Linked DNA regions of Homo sapiens. The protein of the gene in region 1 purifies or fractionates together with the protein of each later gene. This does not show direct contact. Each region holds a gene or a part of one and is shown on either strand. Other genes may lie near its edges. The genes, in order: GMPPA, ACOT8, AVIL, NMNAT2 and LPP.

What was found.
Region 2: the proteins of GMPPA (region 1) and ACOT8 purify together in Homo sapiens (co-immunoprecipitation; one large-scale study listed by IntAct). This does not show direct contact.
Region 3: the proteins of GMPPA (region 1) and AVIL purify together in Homo sapiens (co-immunoprecipitation; one large-scale study listed by IntAct). This does not show direct contact.
Region 4: the proteins of GMPPA (region 1) and NMNAT2 purify together in Homo sapiens (co-immunoprecipitation; one large-scale study listed by IntAct). This does not show direct contact.
Region 5: the proteins of GMPPA (region 1) and LPP fractionate together in Homo sapiens (co-fractionation; one large-scale study listed by BioGRID). This does not show direct contact.

Annotation. Positions count from the first base shown.
Region 1 is NC_000002.12:219,503,502-219,509,195, forward strand, and holds the end of GMPPA (mannose-1-phosphate guanylyltransferase regulatory subunit alpha), read left to right. Parts: intron 1-581; coding exon 582-712; intron 713-1,352; coding exon of another isoform or gene 1,353-1,367; intron 1,368-1,726; coding exon 1,727-1,861; intron 1,862-1,956; coding exon 1,957-2,054; coding exon of another isoform or gene 2,055-2,213; coding exon 2,214-2,260; intron 2,261-2,478; coding exon 2,479-2,571; intron 2,572-2,752; coding exon 2,753-2,921; intron 2,922-3,196; coding exon 3,197-3,297; 3' UTR 3,298-3,488; downstream 3,489-5,694. UniProt on the Homo sapiens protein: Regulatory subunit of the GMPPA-GMPPB mannose-1-phosphate guanylyltransferase complex; reduces the catalytic activity of GMPPB when part of the complex. Mediates allosteric feedback inhibition of GMPPB catalytic activity upon binding GDP-alpha-D-mannose.
Region 2 is NC_000020.11:45,843,389-45,849,368, reverse strand, and holds part of ACOT8 (acyl-coenzyme A thioesterase 8), read left to right. Parts: intron 1-693; coding exon 694-919; intron 920-4,948; coding exon 4,949-5,106; intron 5,107-5,596; coding exon of another isoform or gene 5,597-5,631; exon of another isoform or gene 5,632-5,647; coding exon 5,648-5,842; intron 5,843-5,980. UniProt on the Homo sapiens protein: Catalyzes the hydrolysis of acyl-CoAs into free fatty acids and coenzyme A (CoASH), regulating their respective intracellular levels. Displays no strong substrate specificity with respect to the carboxylic acid moiety of Acyl-CoAs.
Region 3 is NC_000012.12:57,811,204-57,817,597, forward strand, and holds part of AVIL (advillin), read right to left. Parts: exon of another isoform or gene 4,857-6,394; 5' UTR 4,838-4,856; coding exon 4,772-4,837; exon of another isoform or gene 4,054-4,771; intron 3,024-4,053; coding exon 2,949-3,023; intron 2,221-2,948; coding exon 2,024-2,220; intron 1-2,023.
Region 4 is NC_000001.11:183,413,871-183,420,936, forward strand, and holds the start of NMNAT2 (nicotinamide/nicotinic acid mononucleotide adenylyltransferase 2), read right to left. Parts: upstream 4,511-7,066; 5' UTR 4,398-4,510; coding exon 4,313-4,397; intron 1-4,312.
Region 5 is NC_000003.12:188,872,640-188,879,033, reverse strand, and holds part of LPP (lipoma-preferred partner), read right to left. Parts: intron 6,392-6,394; coding exon 6,271-6,391; intron 4,684-6,270; coding exon 4,555-4,683; 3' UTR 1-4,554. UniProt on the Homo sapiens protein: May play a structural role at sites of cell adhesion in maintaining cell shape and motility. In addition to these structural functions, it may also be implicated in signaling events and activation of gene transcription.

The DNA.
Region 1 (5,694 bases):
ACACCTACACACATATAGTTTTGTGCTCAGCACCAGGTAGCTGTGAGAGAAACAGAGCCAAATGGGTGCAGTCCCTGCCTCTTGGTTACTGTGAGTCTAATAGGAGTGACAGAATCAAAAGGCAACCTTTGCAAATGATACAATGCCATGGGTGAGGCGTGGCCAGAGTTCAGGAGTGCCCAGGCATGAACAGCTAACTCGGGCCAGCAAGAGAGGACGCACAGAGAGAGTGACAGTGTCAACTGGGTTTGGAAAGGTGGGCTTTCCAGATGAAGAGATGAGAAAGGCCATTCCAGGCACAGGCATGCAGTCGGGTGGAAATGCGTCTGAGAGGTAGGTGGTGGGGAGGATCAGGCAGGGAAAGCCATGGACTTTGGATTTATCTGAAGCTGAATCAGGTGAAGGGCAGTCATCTCAGGGTTTAAAGCCAGGCAGCAGTAGGATGCGGATGCGCACTGCATTTTAGCCAGGCCACCCTGGCAGCAGGGAGGAGAGGCAAGAAGGGCCTAGAAATCAGAGGGTCTTAGGGGACTGTGGCGGTAGTCCCTTCTTCTACTGAACCCAGCCTGCTCTGTCCTCAGGTATTGCACTATGTGGAGAAACCCAGCACATTTATCAGTGACATCATCAACTGCGGCATCTACCTCTTTTCTCCTGAAGCCTTGAAGCCTCTTCGGGATGTCTTCCAGCGTAATCAGCAGGATGGGCAATTGTGAGGCAGGCCCCATAGCCCTGTGACCCCAAGTACCCCCAGTCACGGACCCCAACACATACCAGTCTCTGCAGGCTCCATCTCAACTTGCTCACCTTCCTCCTCCCCTCTCCCTTCTCCACTTGCCATCTCCAGCAGAGCCTCCTGAGTCCCTCCCCTTCTAACCTCATTCTGTCCCTCTTCCTTATCCATCCCAGTTCCTCCTCTGTCACTGCCTGCCCACTCCCCTTCTGGTCCATTTCTCCTAAGCCCTGAGTGTCCCAGAGACGTCTTTCAGAACAGACAGCAACACACAGTTGGGCGCACACATGCTCGGGTGCAGACGTGTGCACGTGCACACACAGACAGACATGCATACTCTCAGGCTGAGGCTCCCCTTGGAACATAGCACCAGAGCCCTGCTCACCAGTCCCAGGGTCTTCCCTCCTGGGGCTAGAAGCTGTTCCCTTCTAGGGATCCTTGCCTTAACCCCCCACCGCCCCATCTAAGGCCTCCTCTGCTCATAGCCATTTCTCACTCCCACCCGTGTCTCTGCTTCCCTCTCCATCTCTCCTGGCCTCTCTGTCTCTGTCTCTGCTGAGCTGGCATCTCTACCATCTCTCTCTCCCTTTCTTTCTGTGACTGTCTCTGCCCTCACCAGCTGCCTTGCTCTGGGGTGAGTCTGTCTGTGTTTCATTCCATCCAATGAGGGGGAGGGTAACTTGGAGGGGGTAAAGGGCTGAATGGGGATGAGAATGTGAAAATGGGGGGAACTCCTTATGGAAATGGGGCAGGGATGGGAAGCAGGCCTCTGCCTGGGGCTCCCTTGTGATAGCACCCACCCAAGTGGGGGCTGGGTGGGAGAGGTTCCTGGGATGTGAGCAGCCACATCCCAGAGAGGGCCGAACCAGACCTGGAGAGAGGGGCTTAGAGAGGTGGTGGGAATCCTCCTACTCCTGTCCCTGGGAGACTGTGTTAGCCCCACAGTCGGGGCTCAGCTGGGGGACTAATGTCAGCATTCTTCCTCTCTGCCAGGGAGGACTCACCAGGCTTGTGGCCAGGGGCAGGTACCATCCGCCTAGAGCAGGATGTGTTTTCAGCCCTGGCAGGGCAGGGCCAGATATACGTGCATCTCACTGATGGTATCTGGAGTCAGATCAAGTCCGCAGGGTATGGAAGGCTGGGTCCCCTGGGGATTGAAATTTTGGGGTGGTGGGCACAGGCCCTGCTGACCCCTGAGCCCCTGTCCCCCTTGCGGTCCCCAGTTCAGCCCTCTACGCCTCCCGCCTCTACCTGAGCCGATACCAGGACACTCACCCAGAACGGCTGGCCAAGCACACCCCAGGGGGCCCATGGATCCGAGGTACCCAGCCTGCCCCAATTCCTAACCTTTGGCTTCCACCCCAGCCCTCTGAACCAGGATTCTTGACCTCGAGTCCAGAGTTAAAGCCTCAATCCCTGCCCCTTCCTGATCAAATTCGGTTTGGGATATTTGCCCCCAGGGCCTCTCTTCTGCTTCTAGGGAATGTGTACATCCACCCGACCGCCAAGGTGGCCCCCTCGGCTGTGGTGAGCACTGGTCCCAGCCCCAGGGAGGGAAGGGTGGTGGTCGGATGGATGGAGGGTGCCCACGCTGCCTGAGTTCTGGGTGCCGGTTTCTTCACTTTGTCACAGCCTATTGTGTGTCCTCGAGCAGGTCACTTATGCCTTATCTGTTCTAGAAGGGAGTTGGGTTTGGGGATCCTCCAAGTCCCTCCAGGGCTTATGGTGTGTGCTTCTCTCCACAGCTGGGCCCCAACGTCTCCATCGGGAAGGGGGTGACCGTGGGTGAGGGTGTGCGGCTCCGGGAGAGCATCGTCCTCCATGGAGCCACTTTGCAGGTAGGTACCAGCATACACAGCAGCATGTGACACCCCAAGAGGCTGCGGGGAGGGCCCAGGCATCCCCCCAAGAACAGAGAAGGGTGAACGCCGTGGGCTCTGCATCTGGCCACACCTCACACCCTCCGGTTCCTGCTGCCTCCTGCCTCTTCCCCTTACCTTTCACTGTCCTCTTTGGCAGGAGCACACGTGTGTTCTGCATAGCATCGTGGGCTGGGGGAGCACCGTGGGACGCTGGGCCCGCGTGGAGGGTACCCCCAGTGACCCTAACCCCAACGATCCCCGAGCCCGCATGGACAGTGAGAGCCTCTTCAAGGACGGGAAGCTGCTGCCTGCTATCACCATCCTGGGTATGGCTTCCTGGGGGCCAGGGCTGGGGGAACCCCTCAGCTGATGGCCAGTGGCCCCGGGGAGCATTCGTTCCTCTGTGTGCACGCGTGTTTCTTCTTTTAGCAAACAGTTACCAAGGGCCTGCTGTGTGCCAGGCCCTGTGTGAGTCACCGGGGGCATGAGACCAGGGGCACAGATGGGCAGGAGGGCTCCCTCCCTGCTGGCAGTGGCCCCCAGCTCCCTGCCCCTGTCTCCCCTCCCATGACCTCCCCTGGTGCCCTCATCCATGCTGCAGGCTGCCGAGTCCGGATCCCTGCCGAGGTGCTCATCCTGAACTCGATTGTTCTGCCACACAAGGAGCTGAGCCGAAGCTTCACCAACCAGATCATCCTCTGAGTAGGGCTGCCAGAAGGCCCCCAGCTCCTACCCACTCCCCTTGAGGCTGCTGCCTGCTTGGCCAGCCTCTGTCCAGAAAGGACCAGAGAAAGCCAGGCTGGATCGTCACATGCCGGGGAGCAATGTGGATGGCCTGGGGACTCCTGGGTTTTCTCCCTCCCGACTCCCTAATAAACCCCGTGAACCTTGGAGCCAGCACAGACTGTACTTATGTCTGGGCTGGGGGTGGGGGCGGAAGCGGGGCAGCTGAGTCAGGCCCCCCCACATTAGCATTTAAATTGGAGTCGTTGCTGTGGGCTCATGAATAATGAATCTGGAGCCCTGGTAAATCTCCCCCTCCCACTGCCTCAGCCTCGTGCTGCTCGGGAGGAAGGCCCTCTAGGCTCCCCTGCCAGCCTGGTCCCCCCCTTCACCCCTGCCTCCCTGCCTCCCTGTTCCTCCTCACCGGGCCTGGCTCAGGCCCCCATGTGCAAGGATTCCGAAGGGAAGGGTGAAGGATTTTGGTTGGGCAGCAGGCAGAGGAACTGGGGCCACAGGCCTAGAGGCTGATCCCCACAGCCCGCTCTGCTCGGTTCCCGCTGAGCCCAGCCCTGGCCGGTTTTCCGCTTTGCCAGCTCCATCTGCTCCCAGCTTGGCTTTTGGCAGGGTGGGGGTTTTGCCTCTGCCCGAGGCCTCATGTCTCTGTCTTCTACTCCCCTGGCAGGCTGGGTGGGCCTGAGCTGGTGCCATTCTCTTCGGAAGCACAGTGGGAGGTACCCTGTTCTGGGAAGGCCCTCACCACCTCCTGTCCCCCTGGCCCTGCCCTTTGGTAGGTCTCAGCCCTCCTCTCCCAGCCATCTCTCATGTTTGCCCATGACCCCCATGTGCCCCTCTTGGTGCCCCCCTTCCCCAGCTGTGGGTGTGGAGCTGTGTTGCCAGATGAGCTGGTAATGATCGTAATCTGCTAATTGAGAGGAATCTAATTACCCGAAGAGAATGGGGGGTGCAGGGCATGGGTGGGAGAAAGGAGGGGGTCCTGGCAGCAGGCAGGGGTGGCAGGCAGCAGGGTGCTGGGGCCTTGTTATCAGCACCAGGCTCTGGGACAGAGCCCAGGGTTTCATAGCTTCATAGCCTGGCAGTTAGGAAGCTGCGCCTTCTCAGGAGCTGGACTGAGGTTGACTTGGGGATTGGGCCAAATGTGACCTCCCAGGCCCCTCAGGTCCCGTGGGCTGTGTGCCAGCATGTAGGGAACGATCTACACAGTGTGGGGTTTAGCAGTCCTGACCTATAAGCTGTCCCTAGTTCCTCAGTTCCTCCTGTCCTGGCCTCCAGCCCAGACCTTCATTATCTCTCTTCATGGGAGTGGGAGGGGGCTGCAGGTCCCCACTCTGGGCTGGGGTCATCACCCCAAGGAAGGGGCTGGGAGAGGGTGGGCCATAGGACCAGGGGCTAGGTCCCTTCCCTCTCCTCCCCCCTAGTCCTGACCCTTCTGTTCCGAGTGGTTGGCAGAGGCCATGGCAGCTCCATCATAAATATGATAATTTAATTATTTTCTCAGCAAAACACCGTGAAATCCAATAAGTCTGTGTCAGGCCCTGGCCCCCGGGATCCCCCTCCTAGACCCAGTGGGGGTGGGGACATGGTGGGGAGAGGCAGTGGAAGGGGAAAGGGTCAGTGTTTGAAGGGGGGTGCCGCTAGCAAAGCTGAGGTCTTTGTAACATGCCCCCCAGAGGTCTTTGTAACATGCCCCCGAGATTGAAGGAGTCACCATTGTTGGGGGGGGTCTAAGAAGGACATGCCCCCCCCACTCCTCCCCAACCCACTTCTGTGCTGGGAGGGACCTAAAGTCCCATCCATCTCTGAGAGACCCAAGATGGAGCACCTGCCCCTGGACGGGGTGCAGGGGGCCCCTTTGTCCACCGCTGCTGGGACCCTGTGCCCAACCATCATTGGCTGTTTAGGGGTAGGAGGGCGCCAGCCCGGGGAGGGTCTGGGAAGGGAGAAACAAGAGGGAACTGGGGTGGGAAGTGGGGGATGAGCGGGGGAGGGATGCGGGGGAGGGGTGCGCTCCTGCCATTAGTGCTTTTTTCAGTTTCCATAAAAAGATTATTCTGTAAAATCAGCGAGGGGGAGCAAGCTGGGGGCCGGGGAGGGGGGTGGGTCCCTGGCACCAAGCTGGATAGGGCGACAGGGGAGGAGAGCCGGGGACAGGGACCGAGTGTGGAGAGAAATTTGGATGGGCTTCAGGAGCCAGCCGAGGGGGAAAGGCTGAGCCAAGAACACAGACTTGGGGGAGGCTGGCCAGGACAGGGTGGGGTGGGGGCAGAGCCCTCATCTCCCTCCAGTCCCCTAGGCCAGGCTGCCAGGGGGCCCAGTCCCACCTCCATCTCAATCCCCTCCCCCTGGCACTTAGCAGCC
Region 2 (5,980 bases), on another chromosome or scaffold:
AGGTTGCAGTGAGCCGAGATTACACCACTGTACTCCAGCCTGGGTGACAGAGCAAGACTCCATCTCAAACAAACAAAAAAAAGAACAAGCGCTGAATAAATAGCCTTTGTTTGTTCTCAAAAAAGAAAACAACAACAGAATAAACAGTAAACAGGCTGCAGGCTAGATTTACTGCTCCCTGATCTAGAATAATGGTTTTGGACTGATGACAAGATCCCAGGCATAGATGGAGCAAGATAGAAGCAAGGAGTATTAATTTTATTTAACAAACACATATAGAGCCCTCACTATGTGCCAGATATTATTCTAAACACTTTACAACTACGGATTCATTTCATTATCATTAAAATCCTGTAAGCGATGAGCACCATGATGATCCCCAGTTTGCAAATAAGCACACTGCTCAGAGAAGTGAAGGGTCACACGGCTGGTGAGTGGTGGAGCCAGGATTTGAATGCAAGGAATCTGTCAATGTCTCTGCTGTTTGTGCTGTTAGAGAAAAGCTCCACCTGCACAGGGAGAAGCCTGATGACAGGGCCTGGTGGTCTCTGTATCCCTGGGCCTGGACCTTAGCAGACCTCAGTTAGTAGTCACTGAGATGAAATGGAATGGAAGATGAGTAGTAGAGTGCCTGTCAGGCGTTGTGATGATGACAGGGCCTGTGGACCCACTGTGTCCTTGTGCCCACTGCAGGGGACCCGAAGCTGCCAGTACTGTACCAAGTGGAGCGGACACGAACAGGGTCGAGCTTCTCGGTGCGCTCTGTGAAGGCCGTGCAACATGGGAAGCCCATCTTCATCTGCCAGGCCTCCTTCCAGCAGGCCCAGCCCAGCCCCATGCAGCACCAGTTCTCCATGCCCACTGTGCCACCACCAGAAGAGCTGCTTGACTGTGAGACCCTCATTGACCAGTATTTAAGGTGAGAGACCTGGAGGCTCCATGGCAGACTTTTCAAAATGCAGCTGCTATCTGTTTGTGGGTCATAGAATCCTTTAGTGGGTCTTGACCAGCATTTTTAAAATACAGATTAGAAAAGAAGATACTGGAGTGAATAATATGTATGTATTAAGGGCAAGAATCCTTTTGTGAAACTTGAGGTTTAGTCATGTGTGTTTCTGGTGTGTGTCTGTACTGGGTCATGGTATAAAATGAAGGGCTTGGCCGGGTGCAGTGGCGCATACCTATAATCCCAGCACTTTGGGAAGCCAAGGCAGGAGGATTGCTTGAGACCAGGAGTTGGATACTAGCCTCGCCAACATAGCAAGACTCCATCTCTAATTTAAAAATAAGGCTGGGGCTGGGTGTGGGGGCTCATACCTATAATAACACTTTGGGAAGCCCAAGTGGGAGGATCACCTGAGCCCAGGAGTTCAAGACCAGCCTGGGCAACATGGTGAAACCCTGTCTCTATAAAAAATACAAAAATTAGCCGGGTGTCGGGGCATGTGTCTGTAGTCCCAGCTACTTGGGAGGCTGAGGCGGGGGGATCACTTGAGCCTGGGAGGTGGAGGCTGCAGTGAGCCGAGATCGTGTTACTGTGCTCCAGCCTGGGCAACAAGAGCAAGACTCTGTCTGAAAAAAGAAAAAAAGAATATATATTTTGTTGTTGTTTATATATATACATGTTTGTTTGTTTTTGAGATGGAGTCTTGCTCTTGTTGCCCAGGCTGGAGTGCAGTGACACCATCTCGGCTCACTGCAGCCTCTGACTCCCAGACTCAAGTGATCCTCCCGCCTCAGCCTCCCAAGTAGCTGGGATTACAGGCACCTGCTACCATGCCCAGCTAATTTTGTATTTTTAGTAGAGATGGCGTTTCACCATGCTATCCAGGCTGGTCTCAAACTCTTGATCTCAGGTGATCCACCCACCTTGACCTCCTAAAGTGCTGGGATTATAGGCATGAGCCACCATACCTGGGAAAAAAAACCATATATATATTTTATATATATATGTATATAGAAATACTTCCGTAACCACTTGTTAAGTACCACCTCCCCAGCCCCCTAAGTGATTCCCTCTCTCCCCCAGGCCCCTGGTCCAGCAACTTAGGACTTAATGCACACCAGGAGTGAGTGTCCTCTGGAGAGCTGCAGCGCTATGGCCTATGTTTGGTCACTGCCTTTGCATTAGTGCATGTTTTTGTTTGTTTGTTTGTTTTGAGACAGAGTCTCGCCCTGTTGCCTAGGCTGGAGTGCAGTGGCATGATCTCGGCTCACTGCAACCTCTGCCTCCCAGGTTCAAGCAATTCCCGTGCCTCAGCCTCCCAAGCAGCTGTGATTACAGGCACATGCCACCATGCCTGGCTAATTTTTGTATTTTTTTAGTAGAGACCAGGTTTCGCTATGTTGACCAGGCTGGTCTTGAACTCCTGACCTCAAGTGATCGACCTGCCTTGGTCTCTCAAAGTGCTGGGATTACAGGCGTGAGCCACCGTGCCCGGCCACATGTTTTATGTATATAAAACATATGTACAAAAATACAAATATGTATTTTCCCCTAACCATTAGACCACCAGGGAGCATGTTAGATATTTTGAATACCTGGTAAAATATATTTATTTGGATCACACCTAATCAAGTTTGAAAAATGCTGGTACAGGGGAAAGAGCTCTGGGTCCAGACAAAGGATAGACACATGGATTCTGTCCAGGGCTGTGCCTCTGTGAATGCTCACCTGCTGTGGGACAGTGCCCAACTCCCCAGGGCCCTAGTTTCTTCTTCTAAAAAATGGGAATGCTCATTTCTGCCCTGCCTACTTCTTAGCTGTATCATAAGGAGAGAATGTCTCTATCTCGTGTTAGATACTGGGGAGGCAGCAGAGTATGACGGGATGGATGTGGGTTTGGGAACCTGAAAGGCCTGGATTCAATTCTAGATTTTGTCCCTACTAGCTGTGTGAGTTTGGGCAAGTTGCTTTCCCACTCTGAGCCAGTACTCACCATTATAAAATGGTGCTAATCATATTCCTACCTCATAAGGCTGCTGTGAGGATTAAATAAGAGAGAAAAGGCACTTAGCGTGCTAGTACTAACTAGCACAATGGCAGTGAATTGTAGTTATATCACTATTAACAGAAAAAACACAGGGCCTGGTGTGTGGTTGCAGTTCGACAAATGTTTGCTGAAATGAAAGGAAGACATTGTTAAAGGACCTTGAATTTAGATCTGTGCTGTTAATAAGGTAGTCTCTAGCCACTCGTGGCTATATTACATTAATTAAAATTAAATAGGTCCGGGCGCAGTGGTTCATGCCTGTAATCCCAGTACTTTGGGAGGCCAAGGCGGGTGGCTCACCCAAGGTCAGGAGTTTGAGACCAGCCTGGCCAACATGGTGAAACCTCATCTCTATTAAAAATACACACACAAAAAAATTAGCCAGGCGTGGTGGCCCGTGCCTGTAATCCCAGCTACTCAGGAGGCTGAGGCAGGAGAGTCGCTTGGACCCAGGGGGCAGAGGTTGCAGTAAGCAAGATTGAGTCACTGCACTCCTGACTGGGCAACAGAGCGAGATTCCGTCTTAAAAAAAAAAAAACAAAAAAAAACCAAAGTCAGTAGAATGAACAATTCTGTTCCTCAGTTGCATTAGCCACATTTCAGGTGCTCCATAGTCACATGTGGCTAGTGGCTACCATAGTGTGCTGTGCAGATAGGCATTCCATCATCATAGGAGGTTCTGTCCAACAGCACTCCAGAGGATAGGGGTGAAAATGGCAGGACCTGTGCAGAGCACTATGGGTGGTTGTCACTGTATTGAAGGGAGTTCCTTGGAATGGGCTCCTCCCCCTGGGGGGATGCAATGTTCCCTACTGTGTAGGGTTTGGTAACTCAGGCCAAGTCAGGCAGCCTGTTTCTTGAGTGTTTAAAATAATGAAGTGGCTGGGCACAGCAGCTCACTCCTGTAATCCCAGCACTTTGGGAGGCTGAAGTAGGAGGATCACTTAAGGCCAGGATTTTGAGACCAGCCTGGGCAACATAAAGAGACCCCATCTCTACAAAAAAAAGTAAAAATAATCCCAGCATTTTGGGAGGCTGAGGCGGGCGGATCATGAGGTCAGGAATTCGAGACCACCCTGGCCAACACAGTGAAACCCCATCTCTACTAAACATACAAAAATTAGCTGGGCATGGTGGCAGGCGCCTGTAATCCCAGCTACTCGGGAGGCTGAGGCAGGAGAATCACTTGAACCTGGGAGGCGGAGGTTGCAGTCAGCTGAGATTGCACCACCGCACTCAAGCCTGGGTGACAGAGCTAGACTCCGTCTCAAAATAAAGAAATAATAAAAATGTTAGCCAGGCACAGTGGCGTACACCTCTAGTCCCAGCTACTCGGGAGGCCAAGGCAAGAGGATGGCTTGAGCCTGGGAGTTGGAGACTGCAGTGAGCTGATTGCGCCACTGTACTCCAGCCTGGGTGAGAAGACGACCTTGTCTCTAAAAAAATAGAAAATAATCATACTGTGGACCCAGATTGCCTGAGTCCAAATCCTGTCTCTCCAATTTTTAAGCAAGCTACCTGGACTCTGTGCTTATTTCACTGATGAAATGGGGGTGATAATAGTACCTATCTCACAGGGTTGTTGTGAGGAATACTATTGTATGTACAATGCTTAGAACAGTGCATATTACAGGGTATGCCTTATTACTATGATGTGTTGGTTAGATATTCATGATCTTGTCTTCACAGTGTTGGTTATGAGGTAGGTTACTATCATTATCCACATTTTGCAGATGGGAAAATAGACTCAGATTACTAATTAGCACGAGACCACATGGCTCGTAAGTGGCCAAGAAGGGATTCAAACGCTGCACTATCCTGCCTGCCACAGGGGAGGGGAGCTTTGGGGATATCAGGGGTCCCTGTGGAAGAATGAGGGGAGTCAGAAGAGGCAATGCAGATGTGACTCCCTCTCTTCCTGGGTCTCACCCCGACCCTCTTCCCTTTACTTTCAGGGACCCTAACCTCCAAAAGAGGTACCCATTGGCGCTCAACCGAATTGCTGCTCAGGAGGTCCCCATTGAGATCAAGCCAGTAAACCCATCCCCCCTGAGCCAGCTGCAGAGAATGGAGCCCAAACAGATGTTCTGGGTGCGAGCCCGGGGCTATATTGGTAAGAGTACCCCATGGATGGGAGGAAACCACTCTCCAAGGGGTCTACCACTCATTTGCTGTGTGGCCTTGGGCACATGAGTTCCCTTCTCTGGGCCTGTTTCCTTATCTGCATGATGGGGAAGTTGGCTTAGCTTCTCACCTGGGCCCTCTCAGCCCTTTGCATGGGGAGAAGGTGGAGATGACTATAATCCCGACACAAGGCCTTTCTGAGGAAGGCAAAAGGCACCTCGCTGGGGTTGTTGTCCAGCTTTGCTGCTAACTATAAAGTATCTTTGTGCAAATTGGAAGAAGACACCCCTTTTGGGGCCTAGAGTGGGAGACTTGGGTGGTGAAGACTGAATTTCAGTCCCTGCTCACCCCTGCCCTCCCCAAGTCGCCATCTCACTTCTCCCCTATCACACACACACACTGTAGGCCAAGCGCTCTTGTGCAGCAACCAGTCTGCACACCCATGCACGGGAGTCCCTTTTCCCCCTACCTCCGTGCAGGTCCTGAGCTGGAAAGCCCAGGAGCCCAGGGCTGATGGGGACCTGTTGCAGGCGAGGGCGACATGAAGATGCACTGCTGCGTGGCCGCCTATATCTCCGACTATGCCTTCTTGGGCACTGCACTGCTGCCTCACCAGTGGCAGCACAAGGTGCACTTCATGGTCTCACTGGACCATTCCATGTGGTTCCACGCCCCCTTCCGAGCTGACCACTGGATGCTCTATGAATGCGAGAGCCCCTGGGCCGGTGAGTGTGGGGCCGTGTGGGACAAGGGCACTGACCTTGAGTGGCAGGAGCCTGCTTTCTTGGGTGATGCTGATTTCCCGACTTCCTGTGTGGCGCTGCACAGGTCACTTCCTTTCCTTCCCTCCCAGGCTTTGGCAT
Region 3 (6,394 bases), on another chromosome or scaffold:
ATGCAGCCTCACTCATGTGATGACAGTACATCAGCAAGGTAAATACAGATGGTGGCAGCTGCTGCCCCACAAGTAGACTGGGTGAGTGACTTTCTGGTAGCGAGTTGGGGCAGTCTTCTCTGAAGAAATGACATTTGAACTGAGATACTACAAGGAAAATGAACCAATACCCAGAAGAATAGTGCTCCAGGCACTATAACAGTGTCCAGGAGACATCAGTGACAAAGACCCCTGCACCACAGAGGGCTTGTTTTGTTCCAGGAACTGTCTGAATGCCAGTGTGTTACTGGGAGAGGGATACAAGTTGTGCTGCAGCAGAAGCATTAATGACTCCACGGCCTTAAGACCACCTACCCTAGGAATCAGCTCACCCGCCCTGCACTCAGCCCAGCCCAGCCTCCGAGCCAGGGGTCCTGCACTTTAAGGGAATGCGGAAGGTAGCCCTGGAGCAGAGGGGCTCTGTCCTTGGGTTCCCCAGTGGCTCAGTGTGCTCCTCTGTGCCCAGAAGGGCCTCAGTCAGTGGAGACTGCTGACCTGCAAGAAGCTGATCTTGGCCCAGCCTCACAATTCTCAAGCTCATTGGAATTCCTCTTTTTGTTTTAATATCAGGGGCAAAGTTTTGAGTTAAACTTCTCAGTTGATGGAACATTATCATCAGCCTTCGCTCCCTCTCTAGTGTTATGTGTCTGTGCATTCCCTTTATCTGCCTGTCCTACTCCCATTCCTCTCCCCAATACGCTTCCATTCTAACTGTTGACCTTTTTATTTTCATTCTAGTAAACTGTGTCCCCCACCTTTTTTTTTAAAGACAGGGTCTCACTCTGTCACTCAGGCTAGAGTTCAATAGTGCAATCATGGCTCATTGCAGCCTTGACCTCCCGGGCTCAAGTGATCCTCATCAGGGACTGCAGGCTCGATAATTGAGGGCTCAATACCCTCAGCCCATGGAGTAGCTAGGACTATAGGAGTGCACCGCCATGCCTGGCTAGCTTTTTTACAAAATATTTTTTGTGGAGATGAGGGTCTTACTGTGTTGCCTAGGCTGATCTTGAACTCTTGGGCTCAAGCTATCCTCTTGCCTCAGCCTCCCAAAGTGCTGGGATTACAGGTGTGAGCCACCACGCCCAACCCATCCTGTTGTTTTGTGTGCATGTTTTTGTTTTGTTTTGTTTTGTTTGAGATGGTGTCTTGCTGTGTTGCGGGGCTGGAGGGCAGTGGCATGATCTCAGCTCAGTGCAACCTTCGCCTCCTGGGTTCAAATGATTCTCCTGCCTCAGCCTCCCGAGTAGCTGGGATTACAGGTGTGCACCAGCATGCCCGGCTAATTTTTGTATTATTAGTAGAGACGGGGTTTCACCATGTTGATCAGGCTGGTCTTGAACTCCTGACCTCGTGATCCGCCTGCCTCGGCCTCCCAAAGTGCTGGGATTACAGGCGTAAGCCACCATGCCTGGCCATGCGTGTGCTTTTTAAAACAGAAATTGGCATTCTGTTATATGTCTTAGTCTGTTTCTTACTTTGTGTGCTAAGCACCATGTTTGTGAGCTCTGTCCTTGTGTTAGGTGTGTATCTAATCTGTTGCTTCTGGCTACTGCATAATACTCCGTGGTGTGCATGTCCAGTCTCCGAGTGATGGACACCTACGTTGCCTGCAGCTTCCTAACATCATTAATGAGGCTGCTATGAACAGTCTGGTCCATGTGCCCTTATGGACCTGGATACGTGAGGATTTCTGTGAGTTACACATGCAGAAGTGGGATTTGCAAGTGGCACTGACTACTCTCCAGGATGCTGCGCTAGTCCACACTTCCATCAGCAGGGCACAAGGGCTCCTATTTCCCCATAGCCTTGCCAACACTTGGCACCTCCCAGCTGTTTAATCTGCTGCTCTAGTGGGTGGAAGTGACAGCTTTGTTTTGATTTGCATTTCTCTGATTACTTTCTTGATAATGCATGTTGGCCTTTTGGGTTTCCTCCTCTGTAAACTGCTGTTTCTGTCCTTGCTCTGTGCACCCCTACTCACATGATGCCCTGCTTGAAGTAGCCACGGAAAGTGTCTGACTCATGGTACTGGACCTCTCGGTGCTGCACAGGGCTGCCTCCCAGGTAGTCGTCCAGCTGTGTGGTATATATGGCTGCGCAGCTTTGCTCATCCTGGGAGGAGTCCTTCCCGATCCAGAAGTGGATGTCCTGGGATAGGAGACTGGCCACTCTCCGGGTCTGGGAGGTAGTCAGAGAGATCAGGTCAGAGGCCAGCTCACCTCCCCTTTGCTGCTGGCCCCTGTTATGGGGAGAATGCAGCACATGTGCATGCCCTTGGCAGACTGAGGGCCCTCTCTCCTGCAGTGGATGTGGGAGCTGCCCTGGCCCCCGAGCAGACCTGCGATCATGGCATAAACTTTGGCAGCCCAAATTCCTCCCCGCATTTGGGGAAAGTTGACAGCTTGTTGTTCCCCAAATAAATAGATACCAACGGGGATCTTTTCCCAGCCGGGTTGCAGGCTTACCTCACAGGTCCCCTTGGTCCCTTGCACTCACACAGCTGGCACAGTGCTCATCTGTACACCTGCACGACCCTGTCAGCACCGTTCATGTGAGTCTCCTCCATGAGAATAGCACTTTGAGGCTAGAGACAGGCCTTGCATTTATCAGGCCTTCTTCCACACCACTTTAATGTGGGGCCTAGGCCCGGGAGAAGTGCTGCTTGTGGGTGGCTCACTGAGGTTCAGACTGAGGGTCCTACCCCCATCCTCTTATGCAGCATTAAAAACCCAGGCTTAATGATGGCCTTTGATAGTCAGACTGGAGGTCTGCTCTGCATAGCACTGAGGAACCATTGAGACCGATACCAGGGACTGACTACCTTCCCTCACCAGCACATCTCCCAGTACAGCCCAAGAACTGGCCCCAGGGGAGAGGCTCACAGGAGTGGGGAGGAGGGTGCTCACCGAGAGGATGACGTAGCAGTCCCCCTCATAGAAGTTGCCGTGGGCGCTCACAGGCACCAGCGCCAGCTCCATTTTCTGGAAGGACAAGGGGTGGGTATAGGCTACATCCCCTCCCACCTCCCTTCCCCATGAGCCTCCCTCTCCTCTCTGTCATTCGGTGCAGGTGGTGGGGAGAAGGAGGGGAGATGTTCTCAATGACCTTACAGGATGTGAGGCTGCCAGCCACAGGGTTAACGTGGCCATCCCTCTGGCTTCTGTGAGCTCTGCTTGCATCACCCCGGATCTGAACCTTGGTCCCTATCCTGCTTTCCCTTGCCCTATTCTCCACTCTACTTCCCACCCGATCTCATCTCGCACTATTGTGGGAAACCTGTGAACCACCTCCAGCCCTTTGCTGGATATAAACGACCAAGTACAAACCCTTCTCTGAGCCGTTGTGCCAGCACCTCCAACGCTCTTCCCAACGCTGACCACTGGGTGCTGGCCCAGGCCCATGTAAGAAAGAACACTTGGATTCTGTGGGGCCGTGGGAGGTGGAGGATAACATTTGGAGAGTGCCAGCGGTCAGCAGGGCTCTGTGCCAAGTGTCTTATATTTGGAGTCTGGGTCAGGGCCCTGATTTATCACTGCATGTATGGCTTGGCCCTGGAGGACTGTTCACACAGCCTTGATGTAGATTTTCATCACACTCCCCAAGTGAGGGAAACTTGCGGCCATACTTGTGTGTGTTCTATGTAAAATGTGATAAATGTTAAATATACTGCAAATCTGGTAACCGTGTTTTAGTACTTGTTTTTTGTTTTTGTTTTTGTTTTTTTTGAGAGGGAGTCTCCCTGTGTCTCCCAGGCTGGAGTGCAGTGGCGCGATCTCGGCTCACTGCAAGCTCCGCCTCCCGGGTTCACGCCATTCTCCTGCCTCAGCCTCCTGAGTAGCTGGGACTATAGGCGCCTGCCACCATGCCCAGCTAATTTTTTGTATTTTTAGTAGAGGTGGGGTTTCACTGTGTTAGCCAGGATGGTCTCAATCTCCTGACTTCGTGATCCACCCGCCTCAGCCTCCCAGAGTGCTGGGATTACAGGCGTGAGCCACCGCACCCCGCCAGTACCTGTTAGTTTTTAAGGAAACTGGAAGCCTTCAAACAGTGGAAGTGACCTGGGACTCACAATCTCTGCGAGGCTTGCTGGAGAGCTGACTCCCCCTCCTGGTTGAGGATAGTGAAGTGAGGCATCATCGCTGGGTTTTAGGCAGCAGCAACTGACTGGGCTCAGGGCAGGGGTTGGGGGGAATCCTCGTATCTGGCAGGTGGAGCTACCCAGGCCAGGGTGGTTCCCAGCTATGGATTGCTGGAGCTCACAGCCGCACAGAGGGTCCCAAGCCCAAGAGGAGACGGGCTGAACAGCTCCTCATCTCTGCAGTGCCCCCTCACCTCTCCCCATATTTTGTAGGAGCCAGGGTGCCCCGTGGAAGACATGTTCCATTTCTCTGATGGAAGCTGCCAGGAGTCTGCTGAGTAGGTCCCACCTGTCTTTCCAGGGTGTTTCCTGCAAGTGCAGACTCACTGAGCAGGTGGCTGGCTAAAGGACAAGCCTGTTTTTGTCTGGAGCCCTGTTCTTCGGGGCTGAACATTTCCTCCACCTGCCAACCACCTGCTTTGAGCACCCAGGAGAGGTGAAGGATGGGAAATAGGTACTTTGATGCTGCCTCTCATTCTCCTCAAACCATAGGCTAAGGGGTGCTGGCGGGCTGTTGCCTAGCAGCCCCAGGCAGCCAGACTGCTTCCAGATGCCAGTGGTCACAAGTAAGGTGCCTCCAGCCCAGCTCACCTCTATTCTCCAGACAATGATCCCAGGGTCGTTGTCCACAGCCCTGAAGGCACTGGTCAGAGGCATGATGCTTGTCTTTCCAGGACTGAAACATCACAGAACAAGAGGGGAGATGATATCTCTTGCCATAGTGGGCATCAATCCAGTTTTTCTGCCGAGCTGCTTCCCAGTCTGTTGTCAGCCATCCTGCCACACCCTCATGGTGCATCCCTGCACCATTTCACAATGATGGGGGCAAGGACTTGTCCAAGTGCACATGGTGAGCCTGGCTGGCCTGGGGATTACCACCCATGAGTTCTGCTTCCCACCTGCCATTGCCCTTAAGAGCTCTGGTAATCGTCATGGTTATTTACCAAAGGGGTGATAAATATGTTAAGCCCTGTATTGATTCACTTTGCATATGTTATCTCTAATTTTCAGAAGGTGAGTTTCTTCATCTTACATTGTGTGAATCTGAGGTTTGCAAAGGCTGAATAACTTGTACAAGATCACACTCTAGAATGAAATCCTTATCTGATCCCCAAACCTGTGCTTCTAGCCACTTTGATGTACTACAACCCTTCCTAAACCAATCTAAGTTCAGTGGCATTTGGAAAGAAAAGCTAGTCAGAAAAAATATTTCCAAACTCAGTTGCCTTCTCTCACTCTCATTCCAATTCTTCCCAAGTTCCCTGCTTGCAAGGCCTTCTCCACAGTCAACTTTGACCTTCTCTTTGGCTTTTGTCCTTTTTTTTTTTTTTTTTTTTTTTTTAGAGTAAACTATTCTTAAACTCAAACAACCCTTCCTTCTTTTGTCACTACTATATTCCCTGTGCTTTCCAGATGCAAGGAAAGTAAAATGGCAGGGCTGGGCCTGGGACAAAGGGTTCTGGGTGCTAGCAGGGTGTGGCCTGGTCTGGCCTGCGGACAGATGGCTTCCTTTTTCCCTCCCACACAGACCCAAGCTTCTGTGTGGAAGCGTGAACCTCAGACACTTAGACGTCTCCAGTTCCTTCAGGATTGAGCAAGTCAGGGTGGGGAGAGGGGGGAAGTGGTAAAGATCTAAGTCTGTGTAGGTCGTGTACCATCTGTATTCAAGGAGCATCTTGGGTAATTAAGCACCTACCCATGTCCAAGGCCACGTAGAGGCTTTATAGAATTAAAATACCTGCTCTCAAGGAGCTTGAAATCTGATAACATGCATAATTAATGTAAAGCTAGATTAATTTCTCCCAAGAGGCAAAGGAAAAAGGATGGGGTTGATGGATTTATGTAAGATTTAAAAATTCACCCAGAAAGGACTGTATGCATTTTTGCTGTTTGGGGACATACTGTTTGTTAAGAGGAACATGTCTGACCATTGTTTTCTTGAACCTTGATGGACAAAGCCAAGTTTGGAGAGCATGCGCCATCTAGTATGGACTTTGGCAAAAAACCATAAAGCTCAAAGCAGACTCGCTTTGTCTACTGCTGTAGCAGGACTAAAGCAAGGCAATGGTGCGGAGCAGCCAGTGTTTGAGAATTTAATTTGATAACTTGTGCTGCCCCACCCTGTGCTGCTCAGAATTGCCAGGAAATATGGTGTTTGGGTTTTCTTCAGACCCTACGTAGCAGTCATTAAAGGCAAAAGCCATGAGCCAACTA
Region 4 (7,066 bases), on another chromosome or scaffold:
TGCTGGGATTACAGGCATGAGCCACCGCGCCCGGCCTAGAAATATTAATTTTCAAAAACAGCGGCTGCCATAAGTTTCCAATTCCAATTGTTCTCACTGAAGCTTATTTCAGAAAGCTCTCCCTGATATTAACCACCCGACCTGAATGAATGACTCCTTGCAACCTGGTTATTCCTCTCTGTCAGGCATTAGACCTCTGACTGGCTTAAAAGGAGGAAAGATGCTAGACTTTGGTAATTTTTGGAGACAATATCAGAGCGCAGTGAAAAGATAATAGTTTTTGGAGTCATGGATTTAAACTGCAGCTAGCAGAAACAGGAGTTTGAGGCTGCAGGAAGCCATGACCCTGCTGCTGCTCTACAGCCTGGGCAACAGAGCAAGACCCTATATCTACAAATTAAAATAGAAAAAAATACAAAAAATAGCTAGAAATATTTCTGCTGTGATGAAATTCCCCAATTCCTCTGTTTTTGTTTATATAGCCAAAATAATCTGAGCTGTCCTTTCTTACTTTTCTATTTAAACTTGCTCTCTGACTTCCCAGTGGTAGATTTATTGACAAATATAGCTATAAATGTAAAGAAAGCTACATTAAATTATAATCTCTACATAGTTAAAAACTAAGCAGTTACATTTTTTAAAACTTCCAATTCCACATTATCTTCTTATGTAATGAGGCAGACCCATGAGATATGACATCACTCATTTATGAGTTTACTTTGCCAAAAACTTTTACTCATCCCTGAAAGCATTTTAGTTACAGTTGAGTATACAAGTGTCAAATATCTCTCACAAATACTATTTTTTCCTGTATGTTTCTATAGTTTCAAATAGGAGAAATAATATCAACTTCCCTTTCAGAGTAAAAGAAAAGTTCATTCTAAAAATATTTACAAATATTGAGAATTGTACAAGTGCTACTTTACAAAGATGAAGAGTGAGTTTTGAATGTCACTTCTCTTTTTGTTTACAGTCTCTCTTTTTCCTTTGATAAGAAATTGAATTTCAGGATATAGGAGCTCTATTTAAAATGCCTAATTTCAAAGTCTTGTTTGTGTCTGTTTTTTAAAAAAAAATTATTACAAATTTCAGTCACCTTAAAGAAAGCTTGAAAAAAAATTTTTAAGGCAGAGTCTGGCTGTATTACCTAGAATAGAGTGCAGTGTGCTATCTTGGCATACTGCAACCTCTGCCTCCCAGGCTTCCACCTCAGCCATCCTCCCACCTCAGCCTCCACAGTAGCTGGGACTACAGGCATGCAACACCATACCTGGCTAATTTTTATATTTTTTGTAGAGATGGGGTTTCACCATGTTGCCAAGTCTGGTCTCAAACTCCTGAGCTCATGTGTTAATGTCCATCTTCACCTCCCAAAGTGCTGGGATTGTAGGAGTGAGCCACCACACCTGGCCAAAAGTTTGATAATTTAGTTGTATTAATTATTTCCGTGTTGTCACAGAGAAAATTTTTAAAGCAATTTAAAAGGAGGAAATAGTTCATAAATAACTGGTTTCTTTAGACATGAGACAAAGATCTTAAGGAAAAGCACATATATGAATCTCACTTAGTTGATGGCCAGTTTAATTCTCTTAGTTTATGGTTCATGAAAATAGAGTGTTCATGGAATTATGCAGTCAGAAGATGAGCGGGCACTTCCTCCAGCCTTTGTTGCAGTATGAAGGCCTCTGCAAGAGGAATCAGGAACATGAGGCTCAAGTCTCAGTGCCACCCATTCTCCATGTGTGTTCATAAGTCACTTGGCTTCTGTCAGTTTCTCATTTGTAAAATAAGGGTAATAATGTTTTTCTTATAAGGTTTTTAACAGGAATAAGTAACATAACATAGATGAAATGGCTTTGTTAACCAGAACTGCTCTACAAAAATAAATTATAAAATTTATCCAGAGCTCAAAGATTCCAATAAGACATTCTACCAAAAATAGTTGAATGTGTATTTTGTGTTCTTATTCTTGCCTCATTTTCACCTGTTTATGTGCTAAATTCTTCATTAGGTAATAAACTCCTTAAAGCCATAGTGAGTGAACATATTATATCCTTTTTTTGTATTACTCTCTGAATTATACTTTAATGGACATGCAAAGGACTTTGTTCACATTCTGCCCTGGTCCTCAGTTCTTATACTAAGTAAATAATCGTTACTGCCAAAAGTCTCCTTTCACCTTTCTATATCTAAACCCTTCCACTGCAACTCAGGTCTATTTCCACATAGTCTATCCTTGAAGCTCATGGAGAATTGGCAGGTCAGCATTCGCTTAACAAAAGCCTTTATTACTGTTAACAAAGAATCTTCAGCTACAAGACAGAATCTTTGGTTCTCAATCCAAATCTGTTTCTCTTGTAATCTAAAACAACTGGGATTTCCTAGCTTCAGGAAGAAAGGAGCAGTACCTGCTGGGTCATCAAAGATTCTTAGAGCCACAGAGTTTCATCCCCAGCCCAATGGCTCTTCCCTACTCCTCCTTTCTCTTGGTTCCAAAGGAAAACCCATCATTGCCTGGTCAAGGGAGAGGAGTAAAGCGCATCAACATAAAGTGCTAGAGGACATATGGACAGACAGGAAAAGAAGGAAAGGGATGAAGACACCAGCATCAAAGGAAAGTGAAAGTGGAGTGTTCTTAGGGCACTGATAGTCCTTAGAAGACTGATGACATGCTCTTGTCTACCCTGATGCTGGAACAGAAGTCCTTATTTAACAGGCAAGTTGGCATTGGTTCTTAATAAAAGACTTTTGAAAGCTGAAGGAATGGTGAAGAAGGGATGGCTATCTCTCAGCCTCCCTCCTTCTATCGTGTAGATATGCCTACCCGATTTGCCCTTTGCTCAAAGTAGTTCTATATTCTTTCCATGAGGTTTTTAACAAGCGAGCCCAGTTCAGCGCACCTTTTAAGTTTAAAGATGAATATTTTTAGCCTAAGCCACCTCGCCCTGTCTTTACCGCTGTGGTGTGGTTTTCACTAAACCTCCCTAGGAGGGCTCGCGCAGTCCTCAGGCTCCGGATAAACACGTGTGCCCGCATCCAGCTCCGGCGCGCCCTGCATTTCAGCACCGCCGCCTCTGGAGAGCGCCTTGCTGGCGGGCCAGGTCAGGGCCTCCCACACGCTCTCTCATCCATCCCAGCCCACTCGCTTTTCCCTACTCCTCGCTTCTCTCAGTTTCAAGAAAAAGCACCCCCAACTTCTAACTTCTCAATTCCTGCTTCTAAAGTGACCTCCGCGTCCCTCTTTCCGTGTCTAAACGCTCATGCCCCACGCCTTTGAGTCCTACGAGCAGCTGCGAAGCCGCGTGGCTTCCCACCGGTGGCGCGAGACCTCCAATAGGCATCTATCGATCACCTTTCCCCTACCGCTGCTGGACCCCGAACCAGCCAGCCGGATGCCCCCGCTCGCTCTCTCTGACTCCACGCCCCAAAGCTTCTAAGAAACAAACGCGCGATAAGTCCCCTCCCCCCAACACGCACACGCATATACTCACACACAGTCATTCGCACATTCGTACACACACTAGACGCCTCAAGCCTTCCGAGTGCCATCGCCACCCTGGGCAGAGCCTCAGCCAACTTGGGCCCCGATCCTTCGGCTCCGGCTCGCGCAGGGCCTCCCGCAGCCTCCGCCCGGCCCCCTCCCCGTCCTAGGCAGCGGGTCCCTGAGGCCGAACCTAGGCGGAAAAGGGCCCCCTCCCTATTCACTCAGCATCCACCTCGCGCGGGCAATACACGGCCCACAATTCCCAAACACTGGTCCCTGGGCCGCCCAGAATCACCAGCCAAATCCGAAATTAATCTTGAAGCCCCAGCCCCTGTCACCGGTGTGTCGGGCGCGAGTGTGTTTGCGAATCCCAGGCACATACATGATTTAACTCCTTCGAGCTTTCGGCCCATCCTAAACAAACAGCACGTTATCTCCAGCCCCTTCCTCCCCTACTCGGCGCCCCAACCTCTGCCCCCATCCCGGTCTTCGCCAGCCTGGTAGCCGAACCACCGCACCGCCACACTCCAGTTCTGGTATCTCGAACCCCTGCCCAGCCCCAAATGATACTCATCTCTAGTCCCCTCCCATCCCCCACCTTTGGCCCCCTGCGAGCCGGGTCTGGCCCCGGCAAGTGACGCCTCGGAAACGCAGTCTGCGTACCCTCCCCTGAGTCCAAAATGAAGGGGCCGACCTCCACCAGCTGGATGAGCCGGCCCACCCCTCCGAAGGGGCACACGCCTTCCCGTTCGATCGCCCTGGAAAACACAGGTGCCTGGGAAAGGAGAGGAGCGGAAGCGGCTTCCAGAGGTGGGCGGGAGGACTCACCAAACATCTGAATGTGCCCTTTGGTGATGGGATTGAAGCTGCCGCAGGCGAGCAAGATAACGTGGGTCTTGGTGGTCTCGGTCATGGTGCAGATGGGTCCTTCGCGGTGGTCTAGGGGTTGCCTCTCTTTTTGTGTCTCGTTGTGTCTGCAGAGGGAGAAAGGAAGGCGAGGCTCCGGCGGTGGATGCTGTGGACTCCAAGGAGCCGCTCCAGACGCAAACCGCGTCACTCTCCGCCTCCCCTTAACGCTTGCAGCTCCGGCTAGATCCGAGGCTGCTTTTGTATTGCTCTGCTCTCTTCTCTCCTCGGTCGCTCTCTTTTCGTTCTGGCTTCCTTCGCATCTCTCGCCTGGTGCCCCACCCCATCCTCTCTATCGCCCCCAGCCCACTTCACTCCATCACTGTCTTCCTTAGAGTTTATCCAGAAGGCAAGACGTGGTATCCAAGCTCAGAACCAAGAGCCCACAGCATGGTGTGAGCTCTTTCTGCCTCTTGCCTCATCTTGATTCAGTTTTCCTCCTCATTCTAACATTTTTCTGTCCCCCCTACTTTCTCTAACATCTCCAAGTTAAAAAATGTTTGATCTTAAGGTATTTTTTCTTTCTCTCTTCCTCAAAATTTTAAGTGAGAAATGACCATTGTTTATTTCAGTAGTATTCATTTCTGCTTTTCCTTTTTCCTTTATCTGATGATTCCAAACTATTGAGTTGAGTCCAAATCTTGATCTGCTGGCTGCAGAGAGATAGGGGTGATCTAAGCCCTTCCTCTGCAATACTGATCCTTTTCGTGGGCGAAGCAATGCTATCCGTTTGAGAGAACATGAAGGGGGCAGAGTTACTAAAACTGTATTAGAAAATTATGGGGATCCGCCGGGTGCGGTGGCTCATGCCTGTAATCTCAGCACTTTGGGAGGCCGAGGCGGGCGGATCACGAGGTCAGGAGTTCGAGACCAGCCTGGCCAGCACGGTGAAACCCTGTCTCTACTAAAAAGCAAATACAAAAACTAGCCGGGCATGGTGGCGAGTGCTTGTAATCCCAGCTACTCAGGAGGCTGAGGCAGGAGAATTGCTTGAACCTGGGAGGCAGAGGTTGCAGTGAGCGAAGATCGCACCACTGCACTCCAACCTGGGCGACAGCGAGAATCCATCTCGAAACAAAAAAAAAGAAAAAAGAAAATGATGGGGATCCTCCATAAGCTACCAAAGTTGAGACAAAGACTTACCATTTAACAAGTGTTTCTTGAGGGCTCATTATGTGTCAAGTATTGCTATAAACCCTGCTGGTGAAGCAAAGTCACTGTCTTCATTTTACTGGAGGAAGATAGACAATAAATATTAGATGGCAATTGTGCAATGCACAGTAAGTGAATGCAATTTACTCTCTGACAGAGCAGAGAGTGAGTGGAGAAGAGAGGACGAATCAAGTAGTCTGAGAAGGCCTCTCTGGGGAGGTGACATTTCAGTGAGACCTGAGCGACAGGAGTAGTTGCTAGCTCACGTATTCAGGGACAGGGAAGGGCTTACTGTATTCATAGAAATGAAAGGCCAGTGATGCTAGAAAGTATGGGCAAGGGGAAAAATGATAGAAGACTGAGCAGCAGGTGATCAGGGCCAGATCAAATGGGGCTTGTAGACTAGGGCAAGAGTTAGACACTTTTCTAAGTGGAATAATAACAAAAGGAAGCCACTGAAGCTTTTAAGCAGGGGAATAATATGTAATTTACATTTTTATAGGATCACTCTGGCTGCTGGGTGGAAAGGGAGGGCAAATGGGAAGACAAGGAAAGCATTTAGGAAAATCTGGTAGCCTAGGCAAGTGGAGTTGTCCTGAGACCAGGGTTTATAGAGACGGGAGCAACGAGAAGTAGATGGTCTCAGGATATGTTTTATAGATTTTGAAATTTGGCTTAAACAATGAGTAGACTGAAATTGAGAATGGTAGGGGAAGATAGATGTTCTATGCTTATACAACAGAAAGAACCAATAATTCTTTGCAGATGAATTGGATATAGAGGATAATTCTTTTTTTTTTTTTTTTTTTTTTTGAGACAGGATCTCACTCTGTCACCCAGGCTGGAATGCAGTGGCATGATCTCAGCTCACCACAGCCTCGATCTCCTGGACTCAAGCAATCCTCCCACTTCGGCCTTGCAAGTAGCTGGGACTACAGGTGTTTGCCACCATGTCCAGCTAATTCTTCGTGTTTTTTGTAGAGATGGGATCTCACTATATTGCCCAGGTTGGTCTTGAACTCCTGACCTCAAGCAATCCACCCACGGCAGCCTCCCAAACTGTTGAGATTAAAGGCATGGGCCACAGACCCAGCCAGAGCCAATAATTCTTAACTTAGAGATTGACAAGTACAAATACGTACCTATCCTGGGCTTCAAGTTTCTTGGATAAATTTCCACCCCATATTAGTGAGTTGGTCACTGTGTTTTTTCTTATCCAAGAGCATGTGGTAGGTGTGGAGTAAATATTTGTTAAATTATGATGAATAGCAAATCAACCCTAATACGCATAAAATTTCTAGTTTAAATAGAAGACTCCTAAGAACTGATATATATTTATAATGGGGTTTGTATCTTCCCTAATATGATATGCAGATTAGTGGCTTAAAAAGAGCTAGAGCTTGTAAAGGGAGGTTGACTCAGGTATGAAACTGAGACTCACTAGCTAGGCAATTGACATAATTATAGTTAAGCAATCAATATTTATTGAGTGTCAGCCATGCACCAAGCCCTGATTTAGGGGCT
Region 5 (6,394 bases), on another chromosome or scaffold:
GCAAATACAATGAAGACAATTAAAAAATATGCTGAATGGTGGTAAAGAATCAAGTTGAAGTCTCTGTCCTCATTATCTGACTAAAACTACTGTAAAATCAAATAAAAAACACTAACATCCATTATATCACCTTCTGGCATAAAAATGTTTTACTCATTTAAAGACCTATGAGATACTTCCAAGACAAGGAAAAAATAAATACTACTAGAATATATTAAGATGAAAAGTTGACTTCTCTCTCTTTCTTTTCTTTCTTTCTTTTTTTTTTTTTTTTACTTTTTTACTTTTTGGTGAGTATATTTTTGAGATTTGGTGGTTATCATTTACATCATTGACTCTTCAGTGGAATATTCATAGTAGTGTAAATAGATTCTTTGAAAATAAGGCACAAGTATATGTTGTTCTCTGATTGTCTCCCACGAGAGTGCACCAAACGAGCGATCCCAAGAAATGGACTTGAGGCACATTTTGCAGAGGTGTCTTTTTCAGTTTGCTGGTTTCCCACAGATGGCTAAAGCAGGGGTATGGAACATGCTGTCATATTTCATTCATAACACACATGTACTATAGCTCTAGGCAACAGATGGACAATCGCTTGTTTGAACTACAAATGTGAAATACTAAGGTAGAATAGCAATATTTCTAGAAATGTATATGAAAAAATAAAGCCTTTCCAAGCCAAGAGGAATGGTGAGAGGCTTTGAGGTTACATCAGTGTTTCCCTGATCTCCCTAGCAGCTGCCATAATTTCCCCAACACCCTTCAAAACTTGATAATGGAAGGATCAGGGGGCAGCCGACACAGATTTGACAAGAGAAGCCCAAACCATATCCAATAGAAATAACACTGTTATTCCTGGCTGGTTCACATTAATAGGATTTTTACTAACTAAAAAAATGGCTGGAAGTTGTGTTTTCAGAGTCCTGTCTATATTCCACTAACTCTCTACTATAGCCCCATGGAAAAAGCCCTCTCTTTCTTCCTCTGTACCCAAATATAAAATACTTGTTTAAATGTAGAGTTTCATATCCTTTAAACCTCACCATAAACATCTCTGTGGAATCTTTCATAGGGAACAATTATAGTGTTGATAAGTCCACCCCCTTAATCAGCACATACCCAGAAAAGTAATTTTGATCAGAGAAGTTGCTCCTACAGAAATAACAATGTGTTAATGACAAGAAAAAGAACCCACATCTTTGAGCTGCAGAGATGCCAGCATCTAACAACCTGATGCCTTATGCTGGGACACATGACTTATTTTTGAGTCGATTATTTATTTATTTGTTTTTTTAAACAAGCGCATGCCACCATGTCTGGCTAATTTGGTTTTTATTTTATTTTATTTTTTGTAGAGACAAGGTCTCACTATGTTGCCCAGGCTGGTGTCAAACTCCTGGCCTCAGGCAATCCTCCTGTCTCAGCCTCCCAAATTGCTGGGATTACAAGTGTGAGTCACCACACCTGGCCTTATTTTCGAGTTTTAAAGGCAATTTTCTTGGCCAGTGAGACTCCATGTTGAGTCAGTATGGTCTGGGGGTTGAAAAATTTAAGAAATCCTATTTTGATATGTTCTGCAGAGCCCATGATATAGTGGATTTTTTTCCTTTTCCATGTCTCTCTTGTTACACAGAATTACCAAATATTTATATTCCTGATACTTTTCAAAATCAGTATATTTTTACAAACTTTCTGTTATAGACTCTGATTTTTCTACTATTTATGTATTTAAACCACAACAATTATGATATTATATCAGCAGACAGTATGATTATAATCATTAAAGTAATACAATCTTTTTCTCTCTGTTGCAGGCAAAATTTCATGCAACTAAAAAAGAGTGACTTGGCATTGTTTAAATCAAATGATTAATAGAAAAGACAGTAATATAAATCATATATTTAAGAAACCCTAGAATAAAATATTGTAGGATCCTTTCCTTATTATACCTTGTGAAAGAAAAAAAAAACTCTAAATCTAAATGTTTCTACATATGTATGAGTGCACATTCATTATTATAAAAGAATAAGTCTATCTTAAAAAGAGATTTACTTTAAAAACCTTTGGTAAAGATACTCTGAGGTTATGTTATAAGAATGCATAATAAAGATTGTAAGCAAGCAGTATTCTGCTGACGATGCCACAGGGATGGGTCTGTGACAGCATTTTCTTACAGCTTTTCCTCTTGACATGTAAACATTCAGTTACACAAGGATTTAAATGTAATAAGCAAGTAGAATGTTACTGCATTTTATAGTATAAATATTCAATAAATTCTTCTTCTTTTGGCAAAATTAATAATAATATGACCACTTTAAGAGATACAATCTATCCCTCAATAAATTGGACTCTCTGCTTTGTCCTAAAGAGAATTTCTCCGAAAGTATTACATAAAAAGTTACTAAGTCAAAATTCAAGCCGATTACATTATCAGCCCTATTGTCAAATAGTCAGTGCTACTTGAGGTCATCAGCATGGTCTGGCTTCAATTTGGAAGACAGGAATTCAGAGACACAGTTGACATTGCCTCCCAAAACTAACATGCTGCCCCTAAGTGAATCTCATCATATTTCACATTATGAGAAATATACGATCAAAGATAAGAGAACTAGGGTAAGAAAAAGACAGTGGTCAAAGGAAGCTCTTAAAAGCTATAATTTTGGTGGTTCTAACACAAAACCGTTTAGTGACAAAAGCAAATGAGCCATACATTAAGGATGAGCTATAGTGACCATCGGCTTAAGAATTTCTAGTCACAAAAAAAGAATCACTTTTATGATCATTCCTATTCAAGTAAAATAAATTTAATTGGAATTCCTGAGGAATAGTTTGCAATTCAAAACACGTATCCATAATTTTTTATTTCAGTTCTGATGTTAAAATTAAAAACTAGAAAAAAAACTAGAAATCTGAACATCACTTCACAATAATGAAAAAGATATCTGTGGAATAAGGAAACGGTACATTGGAGGATGTAATTATACTTGTTATATTTGGTGTCTTAAACTGGGTATTAGGTATATAGGAATTCATTATATTATTATTTATACCTTTTTGTAGACTTAAAATACTCCATAATTTAAAAGTATATACTTGTGGGAGATTTGAAGAAAGATTTAAGAAATCTCAGTCCAAAATCCTTAGTTTACAAAATGGCAACTTGCCATGACTAAGCTAGGTGTCTCTCCTTAAGTGAAACATGTTCGAACTTAATAAGTATGGCTTGGCAGTTGGCAAGCAAGTGTTTCACTGGCTAATAAAAGTTTGAATAAAGATTCTAGGCAGAGATTCTGCATATTTTTAGCTCATAAAGACAATTTTTGTTTCAGTGATTGTCTTTGAAAGTGTGGTGTAAATGTCACATTGATGATATGAAAATGTCTCCTGCAATATGTAATTTCAGTTGCAGAAGGATTATGAGAATAATGAAACTGTGGTTTCAGAATCTTTTCAAGCTTTCTACTCTTTTGAAAGTAAACCAAACAAAACTGCACAGTTTTATTTTGTATGCTCTGATTTGCAATTGTCAGGCAAAATGGACCTGGTAATAAAAAAGAAAAAGAAGAGAATTTGAACGGTTTTTTCACAGCCTTCATCCTCTAGAGAAAAAGGCAATTTTGATAGTTGTGTTGGATATTAGAATAAACATGACAATATTTTTAAGATGAGAAGTGGGACAGTATTGAAAATGTTATCTTCTAGAAGAAATCAAGTTTGTCTGTATTACAATGTTCAGGTAGTGCGGAAAAGAAAAATCTTAAGGTAATATTGTGGGACAATAATGTTTTTTTAAACATAACCCCAAAATGCCTTTTCTAGCATATCCCACCTGTAATTTCTTTAGAAAAATATTGAAGCTTGGTTGTCTGTCACTACTTATTAGCTATGGGCCGATAACTCTTTTCCAATTAGCCTTGATCACTGGTCACTATAGATTCTGAATTCTGATGGTTGCAAATTAAATTTGGGCTTGTTCTAACTTATGTAATTTACAGCTTAAATTCTTTACAGCCTAACAAAAAAAAATTGTGCATTTCCCTCCCCAAGGACGTGAGTAGTATAAAGCAAGAGAAGAATATCCTCTTCAATACATGGGAAAAGAATGGCTACTCTTTACAGTCACAGGCAAAACGGAAATGATAGGATGGAGATTTCAAGCCTAAAAGCACCTGTGAGTTGGCAGACTCACCCAGGAAAAACTATGTGACAGCAAATACCACACTAAGAAAAGCCATTCAACCAGATGAAAAGTGAGACAAACATAGGGATTAAAAGTTACAGGAATGCAGAAGTGAATGGGATGGAGCATAATCTGTGCAAAAATGTGGAAGTCCTTGGGAACAAAGGCCCATCAAGATCCTACATGATTCAATGTGAAATGTGTATTTGGTAACAACTTTTAAAAAAAATCTCATAATTTATGTGTTTCTAAGGCAAGGTTAATAGCAGATGAAGAACAGAGACTATCGCGTAGTTTGATGGCCTTTACTCTAGTATTTCTTATCTTTTTCTTGTGTTCGTTCTTCTCAGTGCCGGCTGAACAGGTGACTGAATCTAAAGGTCAGTGCTCGCCTTGGCGGTCAACACCCTGATGCGGGCAGAGTTGCAGGTCTTGCAGAGGATGTGCCCATCCAAGGGGTAGCAGCCTTGGTTATCTCCTTCAGACAGGAGACCACCGCAATCCTAGAACAGTAAAGACAGATGGAAACGACATAAGTAAAAACGTTAAGTACACATGTGGAGAACATCATGATTGAGCTTTCTATTCAAGGCCTCCATAATGTGGCCACTTACTATCCTTCCTGCTTTACATTCTGCTAATCCCCTGTATCCTTTCTCCCAATATATAACATAGTATATCTTGAATGTAATTGAATTAGAGATTGGGGACATAAATATAAATGGACATAAATATAATCCTCCTAAGCTCACTTGATATGAAATACAGGTATAAGAAGAGAAGAGGCCACCCATCTTGGCTCCCATGTAGAAGTTTGCTGCCCCCACTCAACAAGAGAAAATAAGAATGTCCCTAACCACCGATGCATTTTTTACCCTTTACCATTAGTTTAAGGATCTCTCAAAATGCATGCACAGGTACAGGAATGGAATGTTTTGGCCATTTCTGGCCTAGAGCAAAGGTAGACTGATGTCTGCCAAGCAGAAGGGCCACCAGTGGGTTCGGTGTATTTACTTCAACTGCAGTAAGAAAATAAAATCCTAAAGTTTGTGGGGAGTAGTGGTTTGCTGTACTTTCTAAAGGAGACAGCATTGTGGAGAGCAAAGATTGCTAGTCCAGGGGACAGGCCTCCTGAGCACCACCCACAGTTTTGCTACAGTCTGCCTCAATGCACACAGGCCGACTGCCACTCTGAAAATAACTTCTGCCTTTTCTACCTTACCAAGCTGTTAAGAGGATCAAAGAAGATAATGGATCAAAAAAAAAAATGCAAAGAACTGCATAACTGTAAAGGAATATACTACCGCTGACAGCTCCTCTTAGGGTCCATTTTGAAAAGTGTTATATAACAGTTAAATGCTGGCCTTTGTCTTTGGAGAAAATAGAAGTTTCTTTGGAAAATAAATACATAGTACTTCATCAAGAGGTGTGTGTTTGCTAACTTTAGTATAAACTCTCAAAGGCCACAACAGCTATGAACCTCGCCTCTGCTATCTACCATGGTGGCAAGGAGGTCAATGGAGTTCATGTCTTCATTTGACATAGAATGAAATTTAAGTTAACGGGGTATCCAGAACACAATAGCAGCAATGGTTATACTCTGCGGGAAGTTTGGCTTTACTGAAAAGAACATGCAGATATACTGCAGCTCTAGAGGCGTTCAGGAAACTGAGCAATTAGTAGTGCATGCTAACAAATAAATAAATCTCCATGACTCTGAACAAGAAGTTCTAACCAAAGCCTCAGAGCCAAAGTTAAATGTTCAATAACACCATTTCTCACTAATTTAGTATTTCACAATTTACAATGTCCTTTAATATACAATTTTGTATTTCACTCTCACAGCCATATTTGGAGGAGTTAAGGACTTGAGTCCTTTCTTCCGGTGAGCAAGCAGACTGAGAGAGGTACAGTGACTTATTCAACAGCATGTGCTCGGAATACTAGTGTCAAATCTAAAACCCAAGTCCTATGAGTACAGGCACTAAGGCCGTTCTGAGATTTAGTAATTGCTACATCTATGTAAACCTAGCTCGAACGAGCCTTTCAACGCCTGCCACAGACTGGCAGGGCAGGGCTGTCAACCAGACCTCGCATCGGTAGCAGTGAACATGGAAATCTCGATCCAAAGCCACAATACGGACAGTCTCCTCCTGGCCCGGGGCTGGCATAATAGGCTCCTTGCACACAGAACATCGCGGGGCAAATTTCCTG